2 linked regions of the Homo sapiens genome follow. The gene in region 1 interacts genetically with each later gene. Each region holds a gene or a part of one and is shown on either strand. Other genes may lie near its edges. The genes, in order: DAZAP1 and DEPDC5.

Region 1 (3,817 bases):
GACACTGCGTGCACAGTCACGCTCAGGTGCACACGTGTGCTCAGGACGGTGGGAGGCTCCTGAACCACAGTGACCTTTGTCCCCTCACAGTCTGAGCTGCCCTTTCTGCCCCGTTTCCATCTTTCCCCGCCCCCAGTTTTGCTTGTCCTGTTTCTGCCTGGTCCCAGCTACAGCAGCCCTGGCCCCTGTCTCTTCAGCTTGAGAGGCCCCACAGTAGGCTGCTCCTTCCGGGGGCCGTTGCCTGTTCCCACCCCCCACGGCCCTTCTCTGCCGCGCTCGTTCACGCCTCACGCCCGTGCTGCGCTGTCCCCTGCTGTGTGGTGCCTTGTCACGCACCCTGTGCCTCTGGCGCGGGCAGCCCATCTTCAGCCCGGTCTCAGCTCTTCCCATGTCCATCTTTGTTCTGTGAGGTCTTGGGCAGCTGTCTGCCGGGCACTTCCATCTGGGGAGGGGCTGGTGCCGCCTGGGCCCCGCCTCGGGAGGACGGTGTGCTTTGCGGTGTCACGCTCCACCTAGCCGGGGAGGCCTGGAGAGCCCGGCGCACTCCTGCGCCTAGAGGAGGAGACCCGCCCCGTTAGCCGGGGGCCGCGCCCACCCCAGACCCACTAAACTTCGTTTATACTGCCACTCTTGTGTTTGGGAAATGCTAAATTTTTTTTGCCTTTAAAATTTTCTGTTTTGATCCCATGGTGCATCTCGCTCTTGCTGCTGGCAGCAGAGTCTGACCTGCTGGAACCCGTTGTGGCCTGTATCTTTGTGCATTGTTTCTCTACCTGTATAGAACATGCATAGATGTCTACGATATGACCTCTTCTAGGACTCCTTGGGCTTACCCAACGGTGTTGCGTAAGCCTAGCGAGGCACCAGCTATGATAGATACTGTATCTGTTAACGCTTTAGAACGATATATGGCTGCTGTCAGCACTAGCTGCAAAGCAAATTGCAAGCCAAGGGGGAGAATCCTGGGTTTCAGAGAAGCATACACACATCCACGGTGCACACCCCTGACTAAGATGGCGCATTCCACGCGGGCCCCCGGCCTGCAGGGTTCACTGGCAATCTCCCCACAGGCGAGAGCCAGAATATTCAAGCACGGGCCTCTGACCCTCCCCTGGGGGGCGCTTTGTCTGCCAGTAGCGATGGAGGCCCTCACCGTTCCCCTGTCTCCGCTGCTGTTTTATAAGATGTGCTCCTTGTTCCAAATCTTTGTGACACGGAGCCCCAGCCCGGGGTGTCTGGGGCGGAGGCTTGACTCAGGCCTCAGTCAGCAGAGCCGTCACCGGGAGTGCGGACGTCACCGTCTGTCCACTCCGTGTGCAGTCGAGTGGTGGCTCCTGGGGAGGGAGGCAGCTGCCCCAGGGGCCCGCAGCGCCCCACACACAGCTTAGCTGAAACCCAAGGTCGATCCCTCGGCCCGTCCCTAATACTGTTCATCATCCTGTTTTGTGTCACAACACCCTGCTACCTTGATTCACTCTTCGTCGTTGGCTAGGTTTTGGATTTATTACTTTCGAGGACGAACAATCAGTGGACCAGGCTGTCAACATGCATTTTCACGACATCATGGGCAAAAAAGTGTGTAGTTGTAGTTTTATTTTACCTTAAGACCAAACCAAGTCTTAGGCAACTTAGGGGTTTCACTGGAAAGGAACATTCCTTCACGGAAAGGGTCGGGCGAGTTCGTCCTGTGAACCTTTGCTGCGTGAGGTGGGCCTGGGTCTGTAGACGTGAGGAGGGTCCCATCCTTCCCCAGCACCCTTCCTGCGGGGTGGGGATCTCTCAGCTTTGCTCCTGGAGCCCCTCCCTCTGGGTGACCTGGGACTGGGCGGGTAGGGGGCTGGGGCTGGGAGGCTGTGGCGGTGTTGGGGCTGGCTCCAGTGAAACCGCAGCGTTGCCTCAGGCTTGGTTTCCACGACCACTCCTTCAGATGTCTGCAAATCCCCATTGTCTGACACTGACCTGTAATGTGATCAGCAAGGGACCTTTGAGAGCCGAGGTTCCGCTTAAAATGGAAAGCACAGTGGAAACATCATGAAGGACTGGTTGTTTGAATTGGGTCACTTACTGTGGAACTCCGGCACCAGCCACATGCTCTCGGTAGTACTCAGCCACCATGCAGTCAAGTGACCTCTGGTTGTGTCATCTTCATACTGTGTTACCCCCGGAGGTGAGAGGGACAGGAGGCCACCCCCCCAACCCCCAGGCCAGCCCTTGGAAGGCATGTGTCAGAAAGGGGTCCCTAAATCCTTGTTTTACCTGGACCCTTGGAGGTTCTTGAGAAGTGGACTCTGAAATAAATAACTGGTAGAAATTCTACAGTGTGGAATTTCTTGCAGTTAGCAAAAGCTTAGGGGTCCAGGTTTTTGCAGGATTCCTGTCTTGGTCCTTTCAAACCAAGGAGCTCTGCTGGCTCTGCCAGGCCGCCTCACATGCCCAGTGGGATTCTGACCCGGCCTCCTTGGTGCGGCAGCTTCTCCCGTTAACGGAAGAAGACGCTTAGCCCCTCTGACAGGGCCATGGTTGTTTTTTCAATTAAAATGTCCTGGAGGGAGCATCGTGCTCATTATCTCCTGCCCCTGCCCTCTACCCCAGCCAGAGGTCTTGATAGCAGAACTTTTTTAAAAACAGTAGCATGTGTAGTTATTTTTGTATACACGTGGCTTAGATTGGGTTGCAGACTTCATTAATTCCATTTGAACCCAACTAAAACAGGAGACACAATCCTTGTTCTGACATCGAGTGCAGCTTGTGGTTTAAAATGAGCCTGCCGGCTGCATGGGTGCGCGACAGTACAAGCAGGGCTTCAAGGAGTCTGCGCCCAGTGTTTTAAGGGACTACGACACTGACAATTTGGGGAAAGCGTGGTCTTGATATACGGGGCAGAAAGAGCTCTGTACAGTGCACACACCTGCTGCCGTCCCTGGGCAGCCCCTGGGTCCCCCCAGCCATGACTGTTCTGCGCGAGCTCCTGAGCTGGGCGACCTCAGTGTGGGTCTCGCCTTCCAAGCCAGACAGTCGTTGGAGTCCAGCTTGCCCGGCGCCGGCCTTCACTGGTTGGCTGGAGCGGCACTTGGCGTCGCCGCCGGCCCCTCATGGGGGTTTTCCGTTTGTGGAGTGTTTGGTACCGCGTGGTAGTTAACCCTCCATGCCAGGCGACTGCATTGCTGCATTCAGGTAGGAAAGGGTGAAAGAATTTTTTTTTGTTTTTGTTTTTTTAAAGTACAAGGACCGCTCTGCTTTGTAAGCAGGAACCGCAGTCCCCTGAGGAGGGTGTGTGAAGACTCGCTCATTTGAGTTCTTTGAAATGGGTCCCTTGGTCCTGCTGTCACATTGCCTTGAGCTAACGGATCCTGTTCCCATCATAGGCCGGTCCTTGGGGCATTGGGCAGGTGGGGGCTTTGTGCCTCTGTGGCTGCTGCTGTCTGTTCTCTAACAGGCAGAACTGAGGGATTCTGAACTCAGGATGTGCAGCTCTCCAGACTGAGACCCCAAGGCTGACTCCAGGTGGATCCATTGTCTCTTTATTCTCATTACGATTTATCAGAAAAGTGAGACAAATTCAGGATTCTCAAATGCTGAGGCAGCCCCGGAATTGGGGGGATCTTTCTGTTGTTAGTCCACCCATATTTTCAAGCAGGCATTAAAGGAAGGTCAGCCACTGCGCCTAGAATAAGTAGGTCAGGCCTGCTCCATCCATTGTCCCCGGCCCCGCACCCTCCTCCTGAGAAGACTGTGGCTCCTGACACGTCTAGAGAGGAAGGGCCCCGGGCTGCTGAGCGAACACAGTATGAAGATTGCTTACTGATCCAAATGTCCA
Region 2 (2,574 bases), on another chromosome or scaffold:
AGAATCTTCCTCCAGGGATTCCCAAATGTTTCCTCTCTGAATTCCTCTTTCCCTTTCTTTCAAAACACTCTGAATGTATTCCAGTGACTTGGGGGCCCTTGGAGGGCAGGGGTATGCTTTTTCCTATTTGTGTTTCCTTCTATAATGCCTAGCAAGGTGCCTGCCTAGAGTAGTTTCATATGTAGCTTTTGCATAGGGTGGAGCTTTAAGTGCAACTGTGGCTCTAAATGACACATCAGCCCACCCATAAGGTCCATCTCAGAAAGAGCTAAAAAAGTGTCCATCTTCCTCAGCCCCTAGGCTGTGACCTACAGCTCCTCCTTCATCTTCCTCAGCCCCTAGGCTGTGACCTACAGCTCCTCCTTCATCTTCCTCAGCCCCTAGGCTGTGACCTACCGCTCCTCCTTCATCTTCCTCAGCCCCTAGGCTGTGACCTACAGCTCCTCCTTCATCTTCCTTGGGGCAGGTGGAGATGATTATATCCCCTCCCCTGCCCTTACTGCGTTTCTGTCTTGCATTCTCCCTGAGTGGACAGTCAGGTGGCCAGGAACCATGTGGTTAAATTGCCTTTTTGTTCTTTCCTGGTGACCTAAGGAAGAAATGAGGTAAAAAAAAATTACTCTGGTAAAAAAAAATCAGGCTGATCCATGCTGAGGAAATCAGTAGCCTTAATTAGAAAGTAGAGAGAAAGCAGGCTGGGTGTGGTGGCTCACGCCTGTAATCCCAGCAGTTTGGGAGGCCGAAGCAGGCGGATCACCTGAGGTCAGCAGTTCAAGACCAGCCTGGCCAAAATGGTGAAACCCCGTCTCTACTAAAAATACAAAAATTAACTGGTCATGGTGGCGCGTGCCTGTAATCCTAGCTACTTGGGAGGCTGGAAGCACAAGAATTGCTTGAACCCGGGAGGTGGAGGTTGCGGTGAGCCAAGATTGTACCACTGCAGTCCAGCCTGGATGACAGAGCAAGAGTAGAGAGGATTTTGCAAAGGCAAAATCCAGAGCCAATCCTCATCATATAATCAGCCTGTAGACAGGGAGCTTACAGTGCATAGTAGCCTACCCATTTAGTTTGCATATTTGACTTCATGTATTCTTTGGTAAAAAATTATGGAATGCAGATTATGTAGAGGATACAACACAGCACCTCCCCAAGGAACTCAGTCCAGGAAAGAAGACAGGCATTTTCCCTTCTTTAGTTCTGCCTACATCACTGTCTCCATTATATAAACCCCTCAGACTTAGAGGGCAGGAGCCACATCTGTTACCACGTCCTTTACAGCTCTTAGCAGGTAGAACTGTAATAAATGTGCCTTATGGAAATAGAAAAACCAGGAATAGAACAAGCCATAGATGAAAAATGGCTCCTCCTGCCCATTTCCAGAGCACAGGGAAGCAGAGAGCCCCAGCTTGGCGTTCCTCTTTTTTTTTCTTTTTGAGATGGAGTCTCGCCCTGTCACCCAGGCTGGAGTGCAATGGCATGATCTTAGCTCACTGCAGCCTCCGCCTCCCGGATTCAAGTGATTCTCCTGGCTAATTCCAGAACAATCCTGGCTAATACAAAAATTAGCCAGGCATGGTGGCACATGCCTGTAATCCCAGCTACTCAGGAGACTGAGGCGGAGAATCACTTGAACCCAGGAGGCAGAGGTTGCAGTGAGCCGAGATCATGCCATTGCACTCCAGTCTGGGCAACAGTGCGAGATTCCCTCTCACCAAAAAAAAAGATAAGGACCTTCCCTGGAGGAATGGATAGCCTCGAGTATGCGGGTGGGTATGTGTGGCCTGTCAAGACATGAGGTAGATTCCAGTGAGAGGCCCAGGATGGGATGGGGGAGAACGCTCAGTGGGAAGGTCTGCTGGGATGGGTAGGGAACATGGTAGGAGGGACGGGCTGTCTGAGCAGAGATGAAGGCTGGATGAAGAGTGCAGCCGGTGGGAAGGCTTTCTTTCACTATGGTGGTAGTGACATGGTGGACCACGGAGATGACGGGCTGCTGGGTGTGAGGAGGTCTGGTAAGCCATGGTGTTGGAAGAGGTAGAGGTCAGAAAGTGGTGAGGGTGAGGACAAAAATAAGCAGCCTGCATGTGCAATCTGGAAAGAGATCTTTCCAGATCTCTGTGTCTCAGGCTGTCCGAGAGTCCTATCAGCTACATTCTCTTCCCTTGCCCCTTTAACTAAGGAGGCGCTGATTAGCATGTCTTCCTGTCCTTCCCTAGGTTTGGGTTTGTACAAGATAAATATTCTGCCTCTGCTTTTAACTTCCCTGCTGAGAACAAGCCTCAGTATATCCACGTTACAGGTGAGGAGCTACGGGCAGAGTTGGGCAGGTGGGTCCACATCCCTTTCCTTGCACCAAGCCTATGGCTGCAGAACCACCTCAGCAGGCTCCAGGAGCCCTCCTGGTGGCTGCCACACAGGCGCTCCCCTTTCTCTTCAGGAACAGTGTTTCTGCAGCTGCCCTACTCCAAGCGCAAGTTCTCAGGGCAGCAGCGGCGGCGGCGGAACTCCACCAGCTCCACCAACCAGAACATGTTCTGCGAGGAGCGGGTCGGCTACAACTGGGCCTACAACACC

Evidence for each region.
Region 2: changes in DAZAP1 (region 1) and DEPDC5 together harm fitness more than expected from each alone (negative genetic interaction), as found in Homo sapiens cells (one large-scale study listed by BioGRID).

What each region holds. Positions count from the first base shown.
Region 1 is NC_000019.10:1,424,386-1,428,202, forward strand, and holds part of DAZAP1 (DAZ-associated protein 1), read left to right. Parts: intron 1-1,492; coding exon 1,493-1,575; coding exon of another isoform or gene 1,576-1,576; intron 1,577-3,817. UniProt on the Homo sapiens protein: RNA-binding protein, which may be required during spermatogenesis.
Region 2 is NC_000022.11:31,903,768-31,906,341, forward strand, and holds part of DEPDC5 (GATOR1 complex protein DEPDC5), read left to right. Parts: intron 1-2,216; coding exon 2,217-2,299; intron 2,300-2,437; coding exon 2,438-2,574. UniProt on the Homo sapiens protein: As a component of the GATOR1 complex functions as an inhibitor of the amino acid-sensing branch of the mTORC1 pathway.